Linked DNA regions of Homo sapiens. The protein of the gene in region 4 purifies or fractionates together with the protein of the main gene of each other region. This does not show direct contact. Each region holds a gene or a part of one and is shown on either strand. Other genes may lie near its edges.

The links.
Region 1: the proteins of SLC22A6 (region 4) and RAP1B purify together in Homo sapiens (affinity purification with mass spectrometry; one large-scale study listed by BioGRID and IntAct). This does not show direct contact.
Region 2: the proteins of SLC22A6 (region 4) and SLC25A46 purify together in Homo sapiens (affinity purification with mass spectrometry; 2 studies listed by BioGRID and IntAct, with this or other methods). This does not show direct contact.
Region 3: the proteins of SLC22A6 (region 4) and RAB32 purify together in Homo sapiens (affinity purification with mass spectrometry; one large-scale study listed by BioGRID and IntAct). This does not show direct contact.
Region 5: the proteins of SLC22A6 (region 4) and PTK7 purify together in Homo sapiens (affinity purification with mass spectrometry; one large-scale study listed by BioGRID and IntAct). This does not show direct contact.
Region 6: the proteins of SLC22A6 (region 4) and XPO4 purify together in Homo sapiens (affinity purification with mass spectrometry; one large-scale study listed by BioGRID and IntAct). This does not show direct contact.
Region 7: the proteins of SLC22A6 (region 4) and PLXDC2 purify together in Homo sapiens (affinity purification with mass spectrometry; one large-scale study listed by BioGRID and IntAct). This does not show direct contact.

Annotation. Positions count from the first base shown.
Region 1 is NC_000012.12:68,648,899-68,652,398, reverse strand, and holds part of RAP1B (ras-related protein Rap-1b isoform 1 precursor), read right to left. Parts: intron 2,000-3,500; coding exon 1,931-1,999; intron 405-1,930; coding exon 348-404; intron 1-347. UniProt on the Homo sapiens protein: GTP-binding protein that possesses intrinsic GTPase activity. Contributes to the polarizing activity of KRIT1 and CDH5 in the establishment and maintenance of correct endothelial cell polarity and vascular lumen.
Region 2 is NC_000005.10:110,742,007-110,745,506, forward strand, and holds part of SLC25A46 (mitochondrial outer membrane protein SLC25A46), read left to right. Parts: intron 1-40; coding exon 41-83; intron 84-1,723; coding exon 1,724-1,781; intron 1,782-3,500. UniProt on the Homo sapiens protein: Transmembrane protein of the mitochondrial outer membrane that controls mitochondrial organization.
Region 3 is NC_000006.12:146,550,333-146,553,832, forward strand, and holds part of RAB32 (ras-related protein Rab-32), read left to right. Parts: intron 1-3,500. UniProt on the Homo sapiens protein: The small GTPases Rab are key regulators of intracellular membrane trafficking, from the formation of transport vesicles to their fusion with membranes.
Region 4 is NC_000011.10:62,979,033-62,981,967, forward strand, and holds part of SLC22A6 (solute carrier family 22 member 6), read right to left. Parts: coding exon 2,810-2,935; intron 2,352-2,809; coding exon 2,228-2,351; intron 2,072-2,227; coding exon of another isoform or gene 2,069-2,071; coding exon 1,953-2,068; intron 917-1,952; coding exon 702-916; intron 565-701; coding exon 456-564; intron 1-455. UniProt on the Homo sapiens protein: Secondary active transporter that functions as a Na(+)-independent organic anion (OA)/dicarboxylate antiporter where the uptake of one molecule of OA into the cell is coupled with an efflux of one molecule of intracellular dicarboxylate such as 2-oxoglutarate or glutarate.
Region 5 is NC_000006.12:43,128,314-43,131,813, forward strand, and holds part of PTK7 (inactive tyrosine-protein kinase 7 isoform a precursor), read left to right. Parts: intron 1-663; coding exon 664-951; intron 952-1,413; coding exon 1,414-1,516; intron 1,517-1,916; coding exon 1,917-2,107; intron 2,108-2,197; coding exon 2,198-2,348; intron 2,349-3,500. UniProt on the Homo sapiens protein: Inactive tyrosine kinase involved in Wnt signaling pathway. Component of both the non-canonical (also known as the Wnt/planar cell polarity signaling) and the canonical Wnt signaling pathway.
Region 6 is NC_000013.11:20,776,829-20,780,746, forward strand, and holds the end of XPO4 (exportin-4), read right to left. Parts: 3' UTR 501-3,918; downstream 1-500. UniProt on the Homo sapiens protein: Mediates the nuclear export of proteins (cargos), such as EIF5A, SMAD3 and isoform M2 of PKM (PKM2). In the nucleus binds cooperatively to its cargo and to the GTPase Ran in its active GTP-bound form.
Region 7 is NC_000010.11:20,141,432-20,144,931, forward strand, and holds part of PLXDC2 (plexin domain-containing protein 2 isoform 1 precursor), read left to right. Parts: intron 1-1,863; coding exon 1,864-1,986; intron 1,987-3,500. UniProt on the Homo sapiens protein: May play a role in tumor angiogenesis.

The DNA.
Region 1 (3,500 bases), on a different chromosome or scaffold from region 4:
TCTTGGCTCACTGCAACCTCTGCCTCCTGGGTTCAAGAGATTCTCCTGCCTCAGCCTCCTGAGTAGCTGGGATTACAGGCTCCCACCACCACACCTGGCTAATTTTTGTATTTTTAGTAGAGATGGGGTTTCACTATGTTGGCCAGGCTGGTCTCGAACTCCTGACCTCAAGTGATCCAGCAACCTTGACCTCCCGAAGTGCTGGGAATAGAGGTGTGAGCCACTACAACCGGCTGCAAGCAGTACTTTTAAATAAGCTTAACTAATATTTGTCTATAGAGTACTAGCATTTATGAAGTCAATACTGTACAAACGGTGTATATACTTTGGTATTTAGTTTTACCTACCGTTCCTGCAGTATCCAAGATTTCAAGCATACACTGTTGTGCATCTACTTCAACTTGCTGGTAGAAAAATTAAAATACATGTTCATTTTTTCAATGTACATAAAACTACCTTAATATACACAAAAAAGCTAATGTATCAAAAATAAGACACACAGATTTTAACAACTTTACAAACTAATATCCAGCAATACTTCAACAAAGCAGGAGGAAAAATAGCTAAGTAATCAAGATTCAAAGACCCCCAAATTGTAATCAAGTTCAAAAGCCATGTGTTCTCAAGTCAACACAGGGAAACCTACACGAACCAGTCTCAATATGGATTCTCAGCACTTAATTCTAGAGAAAAAAATAGTTTCGAAATAGCTCAAATAAACAAACAAAACCAGCAACAGTTCCAACAGTATCATAAGTAATTCTGTCTAAATTCTCCCATGATACTTTAGATATACCTCATTTCTCTAGGTAACTATATGCCCTCACCATACTGGAACAAGATTTCTGGAATTAAGGAAGCAGTGGCACAGCTATTAAATAAATTACACATATATCCCTGTTACCCCTTTCCATCTAATATTTCCTAGGGAAAAATAGGTATTTAGAATTAGATGTAGAAAGAAAAGAGTAATACTGTCTCACAGCTGGGGTGCAAAAGTTTCCAGTTTTTTTTTTGGTAGACTATGCACATGGAGGGAGGAATGGAAACACAGTATTTGTGCAACAGCGGGGCCAGGTTGGCTGCTTCATAGAGGTTGGGAAATACCTCTTTCCCTACTAAGTTAAAAATGTCTACACATTGTTTTATTGTCACATGCTGTTAGTGGACACAGGAATTCACCTTTCTATAGGCTGAGCATCCCTAATCTAAAAATCCAAAACTTGCAATGTTCCAAATCCAAAAGTTTTTGAGCCATGTGTGGAACATCACGCTACAAGTGGAAAATTCCACACATGAGCTCATGTGACCAGTCACAGTCAAAATGCAGCCAAAACTTTGTATCATGCATAAGAATATTAAAAATATTATGTAAGATTATGTGTATGAGGTGTATATGAAACCATGAATTGTTTAGATGTGGGTCCCATTCTATTTCATTATGTATATACAAATATTCTAAAATCAGAAAATAATCTGAAATCTGAAATACTTCTGGTCCCAGTTATTTCAGATAAGGGATATTCAACCAGTATTGTGAGTGGTGGCACTTTCTCAAGAGGTTAGTAAGTAGAAAGCTTAGGAAGACCTGTGTCCACCTATTTCTAGGTTAAAAAGAAGGGAGCTTGAGAGTAATCAGTCTTGCTAGGTAGGGGACTGAAAGTAACATGGGGCTACTACTTGAAATGGATGGTCTGCTTTAAAGTTTATGTGTCAAATTACAAAAAATTCTGTGAATATGTGAGAGTATGGGTGTTTATGATCCTCTTAAACTGGTAACTATGCAATGCCAGAAAGTGTAAACTTTTCCCACTAATTTTATAAATTAACTCTGCCTCCATCCTTTGTATAAAACATTCAATAATTATAAAGCTAAAATAAGTATTTATATTAAAATCAAAAGCAAAAGGCCTTCCAAAGTAATATATACCTTTCTATAAGAATCTTCTATCGTAGGATCGTATTTTTCTACAAAAATTCCTTGAACAAATTGTACAGTCTGAAAAAAAAATTAAGAAACCATTATACTTCTAAAGAAAAGAGTACATTCAATCTTTAATGTAATTGTAAACTGAGTTCACACAGGGAGTTACACCATCAATGAAAAAAAAAACCACAGCCAATACTACATTCGAATGTGTACATTTGGTAAGAAAATTACCTCAGGAAGCTGTTTATTTTTAAATAAATAATCACTATGCTCCTTATTGGGTAATTCTAAATTTAGAGATCATATATTAAAAAATTTTAAATGTCTCTGGTTTCAGTCCTTTGTTTTTTTTCTTTGAGACAGAGTCTTGCTCTGTCTCCCAGGCTGAAGTGCAGTGACGCAATTTTGGCTCACTGCAACCTCTGCCTCCCGGGTTCAGGCCATTCTCCCACATCAGCCTCCCGAGTAGCTGGGATTACAGGCATGCACCACCACACCTGGCTAATTTTTATATTTTTAGTAGAGACGGGGTTTCACTATATTGGCCAGGCTGCTCTCGAACTCCTGACCTCAGGTGATCCGCCCACCTCAGCCTCCCAAAGTGCTGGGATTACAGGCGTGAGCCACTGTGCCGGCATTGTTTCAGTCTTAAGAGCTTAAATTTGATTTTTAAATTAGAAATTGACTAATTGTTATGTATACACACATACATGCAGGATCAACTGACCTCCCCATCACTTTGGATACAAATGAAAAAGCAGTTCATTTCACATTGTATGTACTTCTCAGTTTGTTCCAAGCATGACACTTCTCAGCTAGGTGGCCTTTCTAAGTGGCCAAGATGGTTTATCTTATGAGTGAGACAGAAGGTCAATCTATTTGCTTGTGAGGCTTTGCTAAGCTCTGAACTATTCATCAAATTATTTTCCCTACGTTTTTCCTCTTTCCCAACCCTCATTACCCAGTTATGTCTTCATTCTTGCTATACCATTCCTTGATGCAGAAAACGTGCCGTTAAAAAATGTAAAGCTGGACAGTCAAAGGTAATATTTGAAGACTTTTTATAAGCTTTGATATTTTCTAACATAAAATGTACAGGGTAAGACTATTCATAAGAAGAAAGAGCAAGCCAGGCATGGTGATTTATGCCTGTAATTCCAGCACTTTGGGAGGCAAAGGTGGATTACTTGAGGCCAGGAGTTTAAGACCAGCCTAAGCAATATAGCAAGACGCCATCTCTACAAAAAATTTTAAAAATTAGCCTGGCATGGTGGCACGTGCCTGTAGTCCCAAGCATTCAGGAGGCTGAGATCACTTGAGCCCTAGCCTGGGCAACAGAGTGAGACCCTGTTTCAAAAAAATAAATAAATAAAAAGACCAAAATTTATTCCTATCTGGCTCTGAAATGCGAATGCAAAAAGACATGTATTTGTACGCTCTCAATCTCTGTGCTTAGCTCAAATTGTATTCCAGCATAACTCGTGTCATTCTGGAGTCAATGTTCCAGAGAGAATATGATCCACCCAGATATAATTAAAAGTTGAATAAAATTACAAGAAAAATATTATAT
Region 2 (3,500 bases), on a different chromosome or scaffold from region 4:
AGTAATCTTATTTTTTTATTTCTATTTTTTTTTACTTTAGAACAGCTGAATAGATTTGCTGGATTTGGTATTGGACTTGCAAGGTAATGTTTTATCTAAAGACGTTTACAGCTTTTATTTATTGAATTTAGAGTTTTTCTTTAATTTACAATATTAAATGATTATTATTGCTTCCTTTAGGTTGTTTCTTTGAAGCAGCAGCTTAAATTTTGAATAATATTTTGCAGAAAAAAAATGACCATTATTTAAAATATATAATTTGATAGTTTTTCCAGTAAGGATAGACTAGTCATCCAATTTTATAAACACAAAGTAATTTTGTAATGAGTATTGTAACTGTTTTCATGGGTCTATCCAAAAAATAAAATGAAGTGTAATCTTATCTCTCTCCCATCAAAATAATAATTTAGAATGGGGTTCATGAAGATCAAATGGCTCTGCTGATAAGAACTTTTTTCATAGGACATTTTCTGAAAGAAAAATTACATGGCATTTAATGATGCCATGTAACTGACGTGTCATTTCCCACATCAAACATACAGTGATCTAGTTTCATTTTATACCGTAGATATTAATATTGTGTATTATATATTGTTTCCCTTACTTACCTGTTTGCAGATCTGGTTTTCATTCTTTTCATGGGTCTATCCAAAGAATAAAATGAAATGTAATCTGTCTGTCTCCCATCAAAAAAGTAATTGTGCATGGAGGCTTCTTTCTAAACACTCTAATGCTTACAAGATATTTAGCAACATAGCATCTAGATTTTGTTCATAATCAGCGTTTGGTGATAGCATTACTTTTTTTTATATCTAACGATCATTTTAAGAAAATCCTTTAGTCTTGATTATTGTGATCCTTAGTGAATACCATTTTCAAAAATATTGGAATTGCACAAAGCTTACATTTCATGCCATAATGATCATTATTTTAAACATTTTAACGAAGAAAAACACCTTATTTGCATAATTAAACCCGAGGGTGTTAATGTCAATATAAATAAAATCTGTGTTTTCCATTCTGCTGGAGTTGTTTTTTGCTTCAATATTTATACTTAAAGCTTTGATTCATTTGATAGACTATTATTACATATAAATATGTGTGCACATGTATGTATATGTCACTCTGAGACCTGAAACCCACAGCTGTAATTGTTTTGTGGGGCACATTCTCAAAATAAATATTTGATACATAAATATTAGTCAATTAACATGGTCATTAAGAATCTTATAATTTAAGATTTATACTTAAATTTATACTTAAACCTTATAATTTAAGTGCACCAAAACCAAACATTTTTAGAATGGGGTTCATGAAGATCAAATGACTCTGCTGATAGGAATTCTGTTATTAGGACATTTTCTGAAAGAAATAATTTGCAGCATTAAATGCCATTTAATTGATGTGCCATTTCCCACATTAAACATTCAGAGATCTAGTTTCATCTTATACTATAGACATTAATATTATGTATTATGTATTGTTTCCCTTATTTACTAGTATGCAGATCTGGTTTTCATTCTTTTCATATTGAATTTCGTTATGGGTAGAATCATTTGCAAACATTTCTAGACATTTTTAAAGATCTATTTAATTTGTTTAAGAATGGAAAACATAAAATAATGCATGATTCTTCAGGCAAGAATAATTTCAGAAAGATACCTGTTGTAAATTTAATTTATCTCTATGTAGACATACATATACATAAATTATTTTTATATAGTCTCTTTACAGAAAATGTATTGGCACATCCTTGCATTGTTCTACGCCGCCAATGTCAGGTAAATGTAATTTCTGTGATCTTTTGAAGCAATACTTCTGACCCTAATATGAAGGGCAGAACTCACATAAATGACATGAAACCAGGTAATTGTTACTTCATGTGAAATGTTCCAAACTTTTTGGTCTCAAAACCTCTTTAAAGTCTTAAAAAAATATTGAGGATCCTAAATAACTTTGGTTTATGTTGGTCATATCTATTGATAGTTACCATTTCAGAAATTAAAATTGGGAAAATTTCAATGCATCTATATAATTCATTAAAATAATAACACCTGTTAGTAAGATAATATGTTTTTATGAAAGTAACTATTTTGCATTTTTGCAAATATCTTTAATATCTGACATAATAGGAGAGAGCCAGTTTCTCTCGTATGCTTCTGCAGTCAATCTGTTGCATCACGTGGTTTTTGAAAGAAGCAAGGAAGTTTAGTCTTGTACACATGTATAGTTGAAAGCAGGAGAGGAGTATATTATATTCTTTTGAGATAATTGTGGGTATTCTTTGCAATTGCACCAAAACTCACTGTGTCGCAGTTTCTTAAAGGTTATTTGCAATGTGAAATCAGAAATCATTTTAGTGAACTTTTTATACTTTGTTACATTAAAAAATCCATTTAACTATACTGCATCTTGAATAGATATTTTTACTTATGCCTGATTCCATGTAATTGTGCATAAGTTATTTGAAAAATATTGACCAATTGAGTTACATAGATCTTCCTGTTGTTAAAACATTTGATTATAAAATATCAAAAAATCATCTTCATTAAAAATACTACTGATCTCACTAGAAAAGTCTATAAGTATTGTCAGCTCTTGACGATGCATATAGATTTTCCAAAATTCTGAGTTTTAGTTGAAAATTCAAACTTATCATTGACAGTAAATACTGTTATTTATTTTTGTTTTAATCAACAATCTCACTTTGTTTATTTTTTAAAATATGTCTGTCCTGAAAGTGAATAGGTATAGTCCGTCAATGAGTTTTTCTAAGTAAAAATGATGTTCCGTGAAAAAAGTGGCTAGTTTAGCTTGCAGTTCTATCATACAAGTGCTTTCCTCATGACAGCAATCTTACTTCCTTATGTAACACACAGGATATTAATTAGAAAGAGGATGTGTACTCAAAGGTCAAGGATTCATAAAATTAACATTTTGTTACTTCATTGTCAAGGATATTACTATATGAAGGTTGCTTTTTTCTCTCTATGGGTAAATGAGGTGAAAAATTACTGTAAGTACGAAAATACAGTTTGATGGTGCTGCCTCAATTTGTGCTAATGAGCTGGGAGTTTTACCTACCATTGCTTTTGTACCATTAGTGAAAATGTCAAGACAGTGAAAAAAGGAAATTATATCTTAGTAATCACTAGGAAAATAATTTTGAACTTGTCAAGCCCCTGAAAGGGTAATGGGGCCCTCAGGAGTCAGTGGACCCCACTTGCAAACTCTGTTATAACCCACTTTTTTTTTTTGTTTGTTTGAGACGGAGTCTCGCTCTGTTGCCCAAACTGGAGTGCAGTGGCATGATCTCGGCTCACTGCAAACTCCGCCTCCTGGGTTCACGCCATTCTCCTGCCTCAGCCTCCCGAGTAGCTGGGACTACAGGAGCCCGCCACCGTGCCCAGCTAATTTTTTGTATTTTTAGTAGAGACGGGGTTTCATCGTGTTAGCCAGGATGGTCTCGATCTCCTGACCTCATGATCCGCCCGCCTCAG
Region 3 (3,500 bases), on a different chromosome or scaffold from region 4:
CTCAGTTGACTTTCAAAAATCTTAACAGTCTAGTGACCAGGCACGGTGGCTCATGCCTGTAATCCTAGCAGTCTGGGAGGCCGAGGCAGATGGATCGGGCAGATCGCTTGAACTGGGAGTTCGAGACCAGCCTGGGCAACGTGGCGAAACCCTGTCTCTGCCAAAAATACACAAAGTAGCTGAGCATGGTGGTGCATGCCTGTGGTCCTAGCTTCTCGGGAGGCTAAGGCAGGAGGATCACTTGAGTCTGGGAGGCAGAGGTTGCAGTGAGCCGAGATCATGCCACTGCACTCCAGCCTGGGTGACAAAGTGAGACCCCATCTCAAAAAAAAAAAAATCTTAATAGTCTAGATATAGAAAAAAGGTGAAAATTATACATATATAAAATGTTTGGGGGGGGGGTTACGTGCATTGGAACTTTCACATAAGGGGGTTAGTGACAATCAGATTTATGTAAGAATGATGAAATGTTTGAAAAATTCTGTGATGACAGATAAACATTATACCATAAATTTGTTGAAATCATAACACAGTTCTAGCTTTTAGTTTATGTTCTGTGGATTTCTTGTGTGTGTTTACGGGTGTTTTTATATATGTATGTATGTATGATTGTTCCTCCAAATCACCCACCTCATTCTGGATATTTACTAATCAGATTAGGTTTAGCTCTACTAGAAACTTACCCTTAGAGTGAAAAACTACTTGATGCCAATGATGATCTGCGGGATAAAAGCGAAGCAATGAGAGACTGCACAAAAGGAGACCGCTCCAAAAATATTGCGCAATGATGGAGTCACTGGGAAAAAAAAGACTGTCTACTGCAGGCAGAAATGTACACTCCTAAGCTAGAGGCTAATTGTTTGAATAAATATAGCATCTTAAAATTTCCTTTCATAAATAAAACATAGTGATAGAAGAAAGATGAAGCCCAGGAGTGCTATGTGAGCACTTAATCTGACACGAAGGAGAAAATCACAGAAAGAAAGCCTTCTTATAGAGAAGTCACCTCATTCTCCCAAGAAGCTAGGACCACAGGCATGTGCCACCATGCCCAGCTACTTTTTGCATTTTTAGTAGAGACAGAATTTTGCCGTGTTGCCCAGGCTGGACTCAAACTCCTGAGCTGGAGTGATCTGCCTGCCTCAGCCTCCCAAAGCACTAGGATTACAGGCGTGTTCTTCTGGACACTCATGCCCTCTGTCTGCTCTGTATGCCTATTGGGTGATTTGCTCTACTTGCCAGCTTTGCTGTAAAAAGACGAAAAAAAAAAAAGGGGCAGTAAGTATAACTGCTTATGCGAGTGTGCATTTTGGTGGAGGAGTTTTATAAATGATAGACAAAATTCCCCTTTAGGCTCTATTTAATCTTTCAGATAGTAAATCCAGATTTGCCCCCAGATGTAAGACGTCATGTGACTAGTAGCTTGTGACTGTGTAAGTCATCGGTTTCACTTTATGTATGGATAGGATTACACGCAGAGGTGAAAGGTGAAACGCTGGTTAAGAGTACAAGTTTCAAGTTTGCTCTGTGCTTCCATACAAATATAATAGAAGCAGCTTCTGTAGAATTTCCTTAGCAGTAAACCAGACGTGTTCCAAGAGAATAACAGTAATAAAAAAATTTAGGTTAAAAATCTTAGAGTTAAGGCTTAAAGTACTGCCTAAATGTCACTAAGGTACACTTCTGAGCTGGCCTGCAGCTAACTTCAGATCTGACTTTTGCTTGAATTGCAGTCATCCGAATTTCACTAGGAACATAGGCAAAAGATAACTTTTGCAAATAAATTTCATCATTTCACCTTTATGGCAAATAATGGATTTCTAATATGAAACTTTAATAATATTAACATATGGGAATTACATTAACATGTGACTAGTTACACTATCATTGGAATTTTAACCAACTGCTTCCAAATACAGTTAGAGAATTTTATAATTATTTGATATAATGGGGATAGCTGGGACTGAATGTCACTTGGACATTCAAAAGATCAATACTTGAATTAAAGTTAACACTTATCTTGGGAGTGGAGGTAAAAAATAAATAAAAAGCTTGTTTCAGTGCTATGAAAGATGCCTGTAAATAGCACAGCTGTTTTAGGTTTCTTGTTGTCTGAGAAAGGGTTTACAAATAAGGAAAAAGGCTACAATGAACCTCATAGCATTGGATTGGATTAGACATTAATATGAGCTTCAGGTTTCATATGTGTGTGTGTGTAAGAGTATATGCATATATATATGTGAGTGTGTATAGATATATGTATGTACACACACATATGTGTAAACAGATAAAGAAGTTGATACAGATGCATGTGTGTATACATACGTTTATTTACTAGCCATACCTGCTGAGAGGGCTTAAAAGGAATGACACCACAGAACCAATTAACTTACCTCGTGCTCAAAATTCGGTTTTTAAATATCATTCTCCAGTAAAAAGAATGGGAATCTCTAGAGAAATGCCTGATTTTAGGACGGGTGGAACAAGTCAAGTAAAGATGTGCCTGAGATATTTTGTTGTGCAAGAAACTAAGGAAATGCTTACAAAATGATGGGGACATGTGACAAAGATACAGGATACTGCCATACAAGCTCCAAACATGTAAGACAATTTGAGCAACAAACTAAATAATTACTGTAATGGGTTCAACTTATAGAGTAAACTAATAATCCATGATAAAAATGAACAAATGAATAAAGAAATGGGGGAGAAGGGAACCTCTTTCTTTTTTTATTTTTATTTTTTTATTATACTTTTAAGTTTTAGGGTACATGTGCACAACGTGCAGGTTAGTCACGTATGTATACATGTGTGGAACCTCTTTCTAACAGTAGAATTCCAGCTAATAAATGTAGAAGGAATGGCAGAAATAAAAAAGTCACCATTAAACACCACAGTGATGATTGTTGTAGGGAGGAATTAATTGATGATAACATTAGTGGGGAAAAGTGCGGTGAGAAACAGGATATTTACATATTTGCACTAAGTACAAAGGGAAAAATAATAACTTTTCTGTGGAGAAACATGGCAAAAACAACTTGAAGCAGTGTGCTTCCTGATAAACTGTGCAGGGTACATCACTTGTGTTTTATTTCTGCCAAAAATACATACGTTGAATTTAATGATAAGGAAACATCGAACATCACAGATGGAGGTATATTCACCGGCCAGTGCTCTCTGAGAGTGTCAAGGTCATGAAAAGCAAGGAGAGTGAGGAACTGTTCGAGAGTAAAAGAGACCAGGGCGACAACAGTGAAATATAGCTTATGATCCTGGATCTGAAATAGGGCATTGAGATAATTGATGCAATTTGAGTAAGCTTTTTAGGCTAGCACTGATACAACACTATTATGTAATTTCCTGATTTTGATAGTTGTATTCTGGTTATCTAAGATGTTAACATTTGAGAAATATGTGTGAATGGTAGGAATGTTTACTTTTTTTGCAATGTTTTTGTAAATCCAAAATTATTTAAAAATGAACAGTTAAATATATTTAAA
Region 4 (2,935 bases):
TACTATATTTATTCCTATTGCTGGGATATTATCAGGAGTGAATCTTGAGATAGGAAATTGCTTTCATGTTTGTGGCCTTTGCTTTCAGATATATCACTTGGTTTATAGATGGAATGTAGATGTGGTGGCAGCTTCTAATTTGTGTTTTGGAGATTAAAGGAAGACTTCAATTTGTTGTCTCTGAGATGTGTCTTCTTGGTTCCTTACCCTGCCCCAGTTGGTGGCTACTTTTGAGATCTTCTAGGGTCCCGTAAGGGCTTAGAGGACAGTAACACCTGTGTTAGCTAGGCCATGAGGTGTGTACTCAGTGGCTACTATGTGCCTTGCAATGATGAGTGTTGGGAGGGGCCTTTGGGCTGGGATGTACTTGATTTAGCTCTGGGGTCTGACCTGTGCACAGAAGAATGTCTTTCCCCAGGAAAAGGCTGTCATTCTCCCATTAGGCTCCCACTCACCGGATCATTGTGGGATACAGTTCCCCAGTATACAGGAAGATGCAGTTGAAGGAGGCAGCCAGACAACCCTTCCCCAGCACAGCAAGAGAGGTTCGGACAATGGACTGGTCTAGAGAGAAAGAAGGGGGGATAGCAGGAGCTTGGGAGTGGAGGCTAGGAGGAATTGGCCCCCTCCCTTCTGAGATATTGGGTTATGTGTGGGGATGGGGCTGAGGAGAAGGGGCCAAGGTGCTCGTGGGTGCTCACCCTGGGGTATCACCCCATTGAGCAGGATGCAGATGCCTGCCAGCAGCAGTGCAGCCATCTGGGCAGGCCGGCGACCCAGGGAGTTGATGACAAGGAAGCCCACAAGCTTGGCAGGCAGGTCCACAGCACCAAAGATCACCTGGATTAGGTAGATGCTGACTCCAAAGCCCTGCAGGTCCATGACCAGCCCATAGTATGCAAAGCTAGTGGCAAACCTAGCAGAGAGAAGAGAGGAGTATGGAGTTTGTTAGGAAGGCTTAAAGTGGGGTGCTCTTTCAAAACAGTGGGGGAACTGCATTGGGTACCCTGCTTAAGGAGCTGGAATCTGCCTTGGCTAATATTTCTTCATTTAACCATATCATTAAACTGCAGAGTTTAAGTATTGAGGTAGTCCTGTAATACTCCAAATTTGCCAATCTTCTGATAACTAGGGTTGCAGTTAATTGGGGGAATTTTCACTTAGTTGCTCTGTAGGATTTACATAGGTTTAGTTTTCATCTTATCAATTGATGCTGGACTGAGGGAGGGCAGGTGCATACCCAAGCCATCTTCAGGGCCAAGGCAGCTGGGAGAGTAGAGAGAGCCTTCTGGGACCTGTCCATGGTCCTGGGATGAGTGTTGTGCTTTTTAAGATGTCAAGAGCCCAAAAAACGAAGCTCAAGATTATTGGCTAGAGCCCATGACTGAGAATAAATCCCAAATTGGAAGCAAATAATTCATTGGCAGGATTGTTCCTTCTGACTATGTTTCCCTTAACTGTCATGGGATTGCTATGGTGATGGGAAGGAAGGATAATGGGGAGTGTTGCAAAGGGAAAGGAAGATTTTCTTTGGCCTTGGCCAAAGTGTTCTTTGGAGATGAGTTTTAGTCATCTTGTTGCCTGTGCCTGTGTTTCTGGCAGGCACCATCAGGCCAGTAAAATCTATGAATATTTTGCAAGCCAGACTGGTCTCTGCCTTCATGATGTAAGTCTATTGACTCTGGAGCCCACTGGTCCTGATGAGGTGTCTCCACATTGGAACAGGGCTAGTGAAAGGACAAGATGGGGAGACTGGTGTCCCGTGTGGAGACTGGGACTGAGTCAAGGCTGGGGGCATCTGGTTCCTAAGGATGATCCCTAGTGTGGGGTTACTGCTTCTCACAGCAGGTCTGCTGACCTTCCTGCCCTCTTCTCTGGCCTCTTTCACCCATTGTGTCTCCTCCTGCCCCAGCCAGCCTTTTGTCTCAGTCTGTCTGTCTTTCTGGGCCTACCACAGCATGGAGAGGCAGAGGAAGAGGTGGCGGAGGGTGGGGCAGCGCAGCAGCTCCATGGCCGATGCCTGGCCTTTGCCCATGGTCAGCTCCTTCTGCAGACTGGCCCGGAGTACCTGCTGGGACCGGCAGAGCTCAGGGCCCGGGATCCTCCCAAGGAGCTCCTCCCAGCCTAATCCCTTACTTAGAGGAGTTCCCTGGGCCCTGGGTCCTGGGTTTGGGGTTTGGGGGTGAAGCCCTGGGAGGTTATCATGGGAAGTCTCAGGGGATCTCACCTCCATACTCAATTTGGCTCCTTCTTCCCGCTTCCCATTGATCCGGGCGACTCTCTGCAGGGCCCTCAGGGTGAGGTCCAGCCTCCCGGAGGAGGAGTGCCAGCGGGCCGACTCAATGAAGAACCTGGGAGCGGGGGTGGGGGTGGGTGTCAGCATGGCTTCAGTTCCAGTCAGCTGGGTGGGGGGCTGGGGCTGGGCTTTCTAGGGGTCTGCGATGGGATTTTATTTAAGGTTGGGAACCCAGGGGCCTTGCCAAATCCCTCTCTCTAGGACCACGAGGCAGTGCCCAGCTTGGTAATGACATATTCCCCAATCCAGAAGCTCAGCTCTTGGTTGCGGGTAGGGGGAGCAGAGCAGGCAGGCTGGAGAACGGAGTGGGGGAAGCCAGAGAATTGGATATCCTGGGGCAAAGCCTTCTCCCCACAGCCTTGGTTTCCCTATCTGTCACACAGAGGCATTGGACTGGGTTTGACCTTCTCTACATTTGTGGGATGGGATGTGTGCTGAGCTCTGGGAGATGTCCTGTCCCTTGCAGCCTCTGGGCTCCTGTGGCAACCACCTCCAACCCTAGGCCCCACGCACCAGGAGTAGATGAAGAAGGCAAAAAAAGGCGCAGAGACCAGTAGCTGCAGGTGGCGCCAGTGGGGCACAGCGTAGGCCACACCAGCCAGGAGGAACTGGCCCAGGCTGTAGACATAGCCAATCAAG
Region 5 (3,500 bases), on a different chromosome or scaffold from region 4:
AGCCAGCCCTTAGGGGTCCCTTCTTCCTTCGTGCTCAAGTCACTACTGCCTGCCCACCCCATTCATTTGGCATTTATGTGACTGTAACTGTGTTCTGTGTGCCCCTCTAGTCTTCAGACCTCTTGAGGAGAGGCTACTGTGTCTTTGTATCCTACAGAGCACTCAGCACAGTTGAAAAGCTCTTCAGGGGGCTGGGCGTGGTGGCTCACGCCTGTAATCCTAGCACTTTGGGAGGCCGAGGTGGGCAGATCACCTGAGGTCAGGGGTTCGAGACCAGCCTGGCCAACATGGCGAAACCCTGTCTCTACTAAAAATACAAAAATTAGCTGGGTGTGGTGGCTCATGCCTATAATCCCAGCTACTCGAGAGGCTGAGGCAGAAGAATCACTTGAACCCAGGAGGTGGAGGTTGCAGTGAGCTGAGATCACACCACCACATTCCAACCTGGGTGACAAGAGCAAAAAAAGAAAAAGAAATCTCAAAAAGAAAAAGAAAAGTTTTTCAGGGGACTCTTGCAATTGTGGCATCATGATCCTTCACACCTGCACTTACTGGACGCCTCCTGTGTACACAGCCCCTTTCCTCCTGTGCACAAGGTGGCCTGTGTTAGGACAGAGGCTGCAGCTCCCCCTGACCCTGCCTCTCCCCTGTTTGCATCTACAGGTACCCAGACAGCCATTGTCTTCATCAAGCAGCCGTCCTCCCAGGATGCACTGCAGGGGCGCCGGGCGCTGCTTCGCTGTGAGGTTGAGGCTCCGGGCCCGGTACATGTGTACTGGCTGCTCGATGGGGCCCCTGTCCAGGACACGGAGCGGCGTTTCGCCCAGGGCAGCAGCCTGAGCTTTGCAGCTGTGGACCGGCTGCAGGACTCTGGCACCTTCCAGTGTGTGGCTCGGGATGATGTCACTGGAGAAGAAGCCCGCAGTGCCAACGCCTCCTTCAACATCAAATGTGAGAGCCAGGGGGGCTGTGCCCAGTCCCCCTGTCAGACCCTCAATGACTGAGGCCTGGGGGATCCCTCCCTTACCTCAGCTTCTCCCATTTCCAGTTAAACGGGCCAGGCAGAATGCATTTATCATCAGCTTTTTTTGCTCATGTGGATAAGAGGAAATTAAAAGTTATATTTTTTCCAAAATTTTTTCCTTCAAGTCTGGGACCCATTTATCTGCTGCATGCTTGTGCAAATGGAAAGGGCGGCCGAGCCCTTGGCCAAGTGTCAGACTTGACCTGCCAGGGACCAGGCAGGCACTTAGTATCTGGTAACTGTAGCCCCAGCCTCAGCCTCCAGGGCTTCCTTGTGTCTGTTGGCACAGAGCCTCGAGGTTCCACGGCTTCCTGCTTGTCCTCCTTGCCCTCTGCCTTCCCGCCTTTGCCCTGCTCTGCCCCTCACTGCAACCGTGGCCTCTGCTACAGGGATTGAGGCAGGTCCTGTGGTCCTGAAGCATCCAGCCTCGGAAGCTGAGATCCAGCCACAGACCCAGGTCACACTTCGTTGCCACATTGATGGGCACCCTCGGTAAGGAGTCAGGGAGGTGGGGATGAAGAGGGTTATTCCGGACAGGGATGTCTCCCCAAATCTTGGACTCTATGCGGATGTTACCTCGCTCCATTCTGTGACCACTCGTTCCACCACCACAGTGCTCTTCACCCTGCCCTCCCCCAGATATTGCCCTATGCCGGCCCCTGGTGGCCTGAAGAGTGAGCCACATTGTGTGTAGAGCTGGGAGATCTAATATCAACTTGATTCTGCCCCTGAATCAGAATTACTGTGTGCCCTTTTGCAAGTCCCTTCCCTTCCTCAGGCCGTTTCTCCATGTATAAACTGAAAGGTCTAGCCCTGACCCTCTGATACTGTATCCTCTCCACTGGCCACTGAGTACCCCTCCCCACCACTGCTGACTGTGTCTGCCCTGCAGGCCCACCTACCAATGGTTCCGAGATGGGACCCCCCTTTCTGATGGTCAGAGCAACCACACAGTCAGCAGCAAGGAGCGGAACCTGACGCTCCGGCCAGCTGGTCCTGAGCATAGTGGGCTGTATTCCTGCTGCGCCCACAGTGCTTTTGGCCAGGCTTGCAGCAGCCAGAACTTCACCTTGAGCATTGCTGGTGAGCCTGGGGTGGGGGCGGAAGGGATGAGGTGAGCACAGGAGGGCCTCACCACCCAGGCTGCATGCTCCCCCATCTTTCCCTCTCCAGATGAAAGCTTTGCCAGGGTGGTGCTGGCACCCCAGGACGTGGTAGTAGCGAGGTATGAGGAGGCCATGTTCCATTGCCAGTTCTCAGCCCAGCCACCCCCGAGCCTGCAGTGGCTCTTTGAGGATGAGACTCCCATCACTAACCGCAGTCGGTAAGGCATCTGGCTGGGAGCATTCCAGTACCATGTACCACACACATGCATTCTGTAGAAGGGGGTGCGATTTGTATCACAGACATCACAGATTTGTACATGTATTATTTCAAATTTCCAAGAGACACAGTTGAATGTTTTGCTTTTACAAGATGAGTCTGACACAGGGAAGAGTCTCTGGGAAGAGCCCTTTTCCAGTTTGCACAAAGGCACTCTGAGCTAGTGATGGTTCCACTTCTCTCTCCCCACCACCCACATGGGTCTTCTGGGATGGAAGGGTAGAGACCCCAGGGATGAGAGAGACACAAGAGACCTAGGTAGTCAGGTGGTCATAGTCTAGATAGCGTGATCCAGTGTGGCAAAGACATCACACACACACACACACACACACACACACACACACACACACACACACACTTTTTAGAGGAAGCAAACACCTCTAGAAGGTTCCAGCCCTACTGCAGGGACTTCTGTTCTTGCCTGGACCCTAGGAGAACATAGAACACCTTTGCAGTGTCAGGCACGACCATGGTCCTTGGGGGTGTGGCTTCCTAGGCTAGGGGCTTGGATGCCACTTGGCTTCAGCCCTGAGGACATCATCAGTAGCCTGCCTGGTATGGCTGAGGGGTATCTGACCCTGGAGCTGGGTGCCCTATCAACGTGGCCCTGTGGGAAGGTGGCTTCCCTGTCTTGACAGTTGCACATGGTGGTTATTCTGTGTATTAGTCCATTTTAATGCTGCTGATAAAGACATACCCGAGACTGAGCAGTTTACAAAAGAAAGAGGTTTAATTGGACTTACAGTTCCACATGGCTGGGCAAGCCTCACAATCATGGCAGAAGGCAAGGAAGACCAAGTCACGTCTTACATGGATGGCAGCAGGCAAAGGAGAGAGAGCTTCTGCAGGGGAATGCCTCATTTTAAAACCATCAGATCTCGTGAGACTTGTTCACTATCATGAGAACAGCACGGGAAAGACTTGCCCCCATGATTCAGTTACCTCCCACTGGGTCCCTCCCACAACATGTGGGAATTATGGGAGCTACAATTTAAGATGAGATTTGAGTGGGGACACAGCCAAACCATATCACTCTCTCTCGCACCTGCATTGCCATTTGCCTCATTGCTTCCCGAGCTGATCTCCTGTAGTT
Region 6 (3,918 bases), on a different chromosome or scaffold from region 4:
GTTGCCAATGTGCCAGTATGAAGAGGTGGGGCCTTTAAGAGGTGATTAGGCCAAGAGAGTTCCTCCCTAATGAATAAAATTAGGTCCCATTACAAAGGGGCTTGAAGGAGGGAGTTGATTCTCTCTCGCCACCATCTGGTGATGGCTTGCTTGCCTCTTCCACATGATGGAAGTCAAAGGGCAGCCTCCAGAAATGAAAGAAGTAAGTTTCTGTTCTTCAGTCTCAGGTATTCTAATAGCACAGAGTAAGATAGTTGAATTAAATAGAACAGACTAAGATAGTTAACATAAATAGATCCATTTTCTCATTTTTTAAAAAAAAGTACAGTAAATAATATGGTGAAGTCTACCCCAATATCCCTAGGGTGGTTGTGGTTAGGGCTATAACGTAGTATCAATATGAAGATATTACAGCATGTATTTAAAAGCAATTGACTATTAGGTATCAGACTTAGTGTTATGATACATTTGTCTAATGAAATGAAATCTGTTTTCAGAAATAATCTTTAAATACAATGGAATTTATTGAGCATCTACTATTATATTTCATCCATCACTTTTAAATTTTTTCTTTGGGAGGAACACTTATAAACTCATGATATGGATAACAGACCTGTGGAAATTAATGTAAGCCCTAAGCAGCTTAGTTAGACATTGAATCTAGGTCTGCCTCTACCCTGCAGTCTACCAGTTCAAGTAGCTTTACCAGGTCAGTCCTTAGAAATAACCATAACATCCAGGGCAGTGCAGTTATAAACAGGTGTACAAATAAGAAGTTCTACTACTCAATACATCTTGGGCTTTCTTAAAGGTGTATTTGAAGCCTAAGATTAGGCAGAAATGAACATTATCAAAACAAGAACAAAACTGCTCACTACTGTGGGAATAAAAATGTTTAGCAGATCCTATTTGCTTTTGTTCATTCATCATCTCTGGGAAACATCAATGACTTACCTCAGTTCACTCTCATGCTATATATTAAAAATAATTTACAGGGACACTCAGTAGGAGGTTGAATTATACGCCAGACTGAGACAGGATGCTGCTGGGGGTGCTGTATGGAATTTCCCAGCAAAAGATTCTTTCATTAGTTTCACCAAATATACCATTTCCACTTAGTTTTAAAAGAAAGTCAAACTGAACTGCCATTTGAGATTACATAGAATGCACAAGACTCAATCTGAGACCCTATGTTTAAAAAAACAAAACTGTTTTATAATCTAATCAGCCTGTCAAAGGCATCACTCATAAGCAACCGAATTGTATTTTTGGAGAGCACCATTAAAGATGTCTTTTAAAAAACAGTTATAGATGTGTATTTATTTGGGACCTTTGAAATCATCTGTGGGTCTCAAATGACAGATGATTAGCCTGTGTGTATGGCCCCACACTTGGTAATGAAAGAAACAAAAATTCAAAATACACTCTAATTGGTTTTCTTAAACAACTTTTCTTTATCCACCTTTGGAGTGGAATAAATCTCAATATAAGCTAAATAACAACATTACAAATCAAAGAATATTCAAAGCAAATTCAGGTTAAAAATGAACATTTTAAAGATGCATTTTCTTTAAAAATTAACTTTTCACTTCATATGTTTACAAGATTTAACACTGGGCAAAGGGTGGATCTATCTAGCACACAGTAATATGGTAATTCACCACTTTCCCTGAAAGGCCAAAAAGAATGACTTGCTAAAAGTATTTACTAAATATGCACCAAAGATAATGACTTAACTAGTAACTGTGAAACTGTTTCTAAGACTGTGGGCTGAGATAAATATTATAAAATATAGACAAAATTTTTATATTTCTAATACTGGATATTCTGTGAGTACCACGGGTTCTCCCAGAAGGTGATGCAAATCTTGATTTTTATCTGTACAGATGTCTTCATTTTTTTAAATTTAAAATTATTTTAGGACCGTGTAATGTCCCCAGTGTCAATCTTCCTATAATGGTAAACAAACTAGCACCATTTCAATGCATTTCATAAAAGAGTCTAGCTAAATACCCATGAACAAATCACACATGGTCAAAACAAAAATGTAATAAAAATATTTAGTGAAAAGACACATTTTAACTCCCATTTATGAATTTTAAAAATACAAATAAAATTTTATCAACCTGATATTCAGCCTATAACTGGCTCAATACATAGCCTTATTTCCTAAAATCATATTGCAGCATCTTCTGAAAAACTAAATGCAATTTTATACCTTCATTAGTTATGTTAATAGAGGTAAATATTTAAACAGTACACTCATCCCTGGGTCTTTAAATAAAACTGAAAAGTCTTAGTGTAAGTTTAAAATTTTAATATTTATAAATTTAAAAAATTTTACACGTGCTGAGTGGTAGCAGTGCTAACATTTTTGTGACCATTAAACCACAAACTCACTGCATAGAGCTTCTTTCTTTGTACAGATAATCAAATCACAATACCAACATTTGCAATTTGTAATAATTTTATGTGGTAAAAGACACCACACCAGGAAGCCTGGGCTCAGAAAACACTTGAGGTCAGATCCCTAGTAGGTACATAGTGCAGATGCAGTATATAATTTCAGGCTAGGAAAATTAGCTACTAGTATGTATCTGACAGTTCCTAATAGCTAAGAGGCCTAAGAATGCAGACGGGGAGAAAAAAAACCAAAACCAAAAAAAAAGACACCTCTCCAATTGCTGGGAGGGCCTGGGAATAGGTGAAGATCAAACCACAGTGGGAGAGGAGGGTAAAGATGTGAGCTTCAAGCGGGTAATGGGCAAGCCACACCTCCCAGTTCCTAGGAGGGAATCGCCACGGCCGACTTCAGCATTCTCGTCTTTACTAAGACTTACCCATAGAGAACTACAGCAGGAAACCGATTTCTTCATTCATTCTCTTTAAAAAGTATGAATGCCCAGTATTAAGCTTCTATTTTTATTTGAACCAAACATATTCTTTGGTTAACTATGTCATGGGTTCTCACTATAATCAACAAAGCATACTTCATATATTTTATATCTAAATGAAAATATGCTTAAAATTCAACTGGAACCATGGCATTTCACATCAATTTGAGCTCAGCAATATGCCTAATTTGGACATTTTAATTTTAGAAAACCAATTTTTAAAAATTCTTAAATGCAGTGTTTTCAGAACATAGTTACCAAGTCAGAGAATAACCACTTATATTTTAAAAAGATTAAAACATTATTATATCCTCAAATCAACAATGTTTTTTTGTGGGAAAGCTTACAGAAAATTATAATGTTAAACCTCATAGCCAAATCAGTTCCTTATTCTCTGGTTTTAGAAAACACAAACAAACCTTAAGAAGTACCGAGGTTCCTTCTGACTTAAAAGGTTAATGTTTTATTCAGGAACCAATAACAATAATTCCTCATCAAAGACAGCTAACTTAGTAAGGTCAATTGACAACCACCTCTAACAACAGAGGTGGCAAACAGATAAAAATTGTTTAACAGAGAAAAATATTATTTCAGGGTTCAGAATGATGTTGAATACTAGGAGACTCAAACTTGTAATCCTTGAAACTGACAGCTAGTTCCCTTCAATACTTTAGGGGTTCATAGAAGTATTAACAGAAATGGGAAACATGGTGATATTACAACTATAAAGACTTGACATTTTTGTTAAAAGAGAAAGTTCAAAGACAGTTAAGGGGAGTGTTAAATAATGCTGACTGGGGGGAAATGATATAGATACTTGCTTTTCAAATGAAAATCATGGACAAGTGGTAGTAACCATCCCATCTGAACAGAGTAATGTAATATAATTAGATACACAGTTTACAACGAAATAAGACTAAATTCTTAAAATTAGTTTGAAAAAAACCTGCAGTTTGTTTACATTAAAAGTCATACTTTACACCAGACAAAAACTCAATGCAGTGATGTTAACATGCTACTGTCT
Region 7 (3,500 bases), on a different chromosome or scaffold from region 4:
CCTTCCTTGAATAACTGCCCTCCATCCTCCAAGTTAAGCAGTTTCTTCTATTTGTACTTGGAGAATATAAAGAAGAAAAATAACCTACTTGGAGCTATTTTCTCTGAAATAACACTTTCAGAGTCTAATTCAAACATTTCTCTTCAGAGATGGTATCTATAGAATTTTTGTATTCATTCTAATGATAAATTATAAATGCATGCTGGAGAGGATAGGAGAAAAAATAGAGACCCTGGAAAAGAGTTACTCTTCATATTTATAATGTTAAGGATGTAATATTGCACTTTGAATATTAGGAGTATGACTCTGAAAATCTAGAAGGAAATATAATAAAAGCAATGACCAAATCACCATAATATGTTTAATATGCTTGAGCTGTGTGAAATTACAAATGTACAAAATTCTGCTTAAAGCATCAGGTATTTGTTTTGAAAGATAGTGCTTGGCAAATAAGAAACAAGGAGTCACATAAGAAACAAAAAGTCATGATGATAAAAGTACACATTGAAGATTTTTACAGTTAAAAATTTTTTTAGATGAATAGCTAGAGTTCAATTATGCTTTTGATGAAAAGTTAAAAGGTATTCAAAGGAAAGAAGATATTGCCAAAAAGAGAGAAATTAATTTCTAAGTAAATAACTACAGGTTTAATTCTGCAATAACTTACCTAGACATCACAATTTTGAATTTGAAACAATGAAGACTGCAATCTGCCAATGAAATATTTATTCAGACCATAAAATGAGTGATCAAAGTTTAACATTTTTTGAGCTTTAAATATTATTATCTTATTAATTCCTGTGAAAGTAGAAAAATGATTTATATTAGTGTCGGGTATCTAATTAACTGATGACTGCCCAAACATTACAATTGCATTGTCACAAATAATTTGCCTTGCATTTTATTTGTGTGTGTGCATTTGCATGTGTAATCTCAATTGTGTATTTCTTAGATTAATATTAAAATTAGTTAGCAATCCCTGAGCTGACTCTCCTTTCAGACAGCTAAAGACCTTGAAAGCAAGAAGCCAGCACAGGATTAACAATTTGTCATGGATAATCCACAAAGTAAATAAACCTAGTGTGAATAATTGAAAGTGGGTTAGACATGTAACATAGGAGCTATTGAAAGTTAATTCAAAGCCAAAGTTCTCCATAATAAATTCCCTCTCATTATCCAACTGCTAGAATAGACTGGCATTGATTAAATCTCTAAATAGAGAGGCATTTGTGCATTGTCAATGTTTTACCACCTTACCTGCAAACATATAGACTTTATCTTCTTGACAGTGTGCTGATAATATAGAGGCTTGAGCAAACCAACAATTTGAAAACGTCACCATGGGTGTTTAGCCCCCTTTCAACTTTCAAGAAAAAAAAAAAGAATCAAAACATTTTCTGCATTTTACCAGATGTCGTTTCTAAAATTCCTATGCTGAGATGGTAGCTTACATAAATACCATGAAAATGAATTCACTAATTAAAAGGACTTGTGTGGTAAGCTATTGTTAAAATAACAAGGGATTAATAATAGCAAATTGAATATTTGAATTACTTATAATACTGTATTAGCATTTTTAGCCTAATAATCTCATCCAGATAATGGTCACTTTCCCCCCAATTAAAATTGTACATGTTATAGATTTCGGATTTGCAAGGTTCTACCAAATTATACAAGAATTTGTTACTTAATCCAGACCAAGTATTGTTAATTAGATACTAAGATATTAAATATGTTCCTTTTTTTCCAGCTACCATGACATTTTATTTTCATAATATGACTGTAATTGAGTTGGAAGTATTTTAATCATAATTTTATATGGGCTTCTTTTTCTGAATATGTTTCCTATTTTTCTAATTCTAGGTTTCATATACACTGGAGAAGTCGTACATCGAATGCTAACAGCCACACAGTACATAGCACCTTTAATGGCAAATTTCGATCCCAGTGTATCCAGAAATTCAACTGTCAGATATTTTGATAATGGTATGTGTTGAGTAGCCTATTTTTTGCTGCATGTATATTTTTAAACCTCAAGCATCAGATTCATGTTAATGTTTTTGTAAACTGTTTATTTTTTGGTGTGTAAACTGCTTGATGCAAATGGTCTGAGAGGACAAATATTATACTGCTAAGATTTATAAAGTACACAAATGGCATTCATTCATTCAACACATTTATTAACATCTACTATACACAGTAAAACTGAGTTGCTGTAGACAAGACCTCAGACAAAGCAAACGCATTTATTTGATGCTATTTCAATAAGTCAGTTTTCCAATTTTCCCATCAGAAAAAAATGGAAATAAGAATAATTTTGTTAGTTCTGATCTTCCAGTTGAGGCAAGTGCCATAATATATTGACATTAAATTTCCAAAACTTATGACTTGTATGTATCAATAAGATGAACACATATTTTAAGAAGTATAAAGTAGTTAGTTGTGGGTAGTTCAACTGAAGAAAATAAAGTTTTCTTGACTTTAGAAAATGAGTGAGAGCCTGTCAAGATTTATCAAATATACCAAGAGCAATGTATCCCTGCTATTACTTTTTGGGACATATAAAATAGAGAAAAAAACTATAATAAATCATTAAGTGGTGCCAAAATCCAAGCGAGAAATTCAAGGTCTTGGAGACATAAATGAATTTTCATCTCAACATCTTATTGAAAGCTGTAACTTTGGTAGAGAAAATAAATTATAGGTAACAAAGAGTTTATATTGCAATGATTAAATATAGAATTTTCTGTGTATTTATCATTCAAAAATGATATTTATTTGTTTAAAAGACAATTTTATGCCTGCAAATAATACAAGCATTTGGGGTGAACAGAGTTATTTCTACTTTTATCTTATTTCTGATGATCAAGGAAGAAATTTGCTCATGGTTGGAATAGACTTGATGGTAGCTGTAGCCTTGGAGAAATATGATCACTTTGCTAAGAGCCATCTCCTGACCAGTGTGATGAAAGCCATTTTACAGGTCAAAATAGCACAATGAGGAAACTAAACATAGTTAGACATTCACCTTAGGAAATACACGTTGAACATCTTGAGTAACACCAAGGTATGATCCAATATTAGGTAACTCTAAGTGTTAGCTGCAATAATGATTCATCTCTGTTATTTTAAGAACTATTATATTCTCTTCTCTTCCATTTTTTAAAAACTCATGAGGTGCTAACACCCAAGGATGTGCAAGTGGACTGTAAGTACACTATTCTTGAGGCAAAACTGCAGCCAGAAACTTATCTGAAACTTATTCTATGATTACCATGCAAAATTGCCTTGGGAGTCTATCCTACGGAAACAATAAATGATTTAGTGAACACTGACTATTTTCCAAACTCCGACATTCACTAGGTGATGTTAGGGTCATTTACTCATGGGCACATGATTCTAATGACCAAGTTTTTATACTGTTGCTATCAAAATCATAAAGCATATTAAATAAGTCTCTCTTCATATATTTTCATATACCTTGTTCCTAGGTAGCTCTT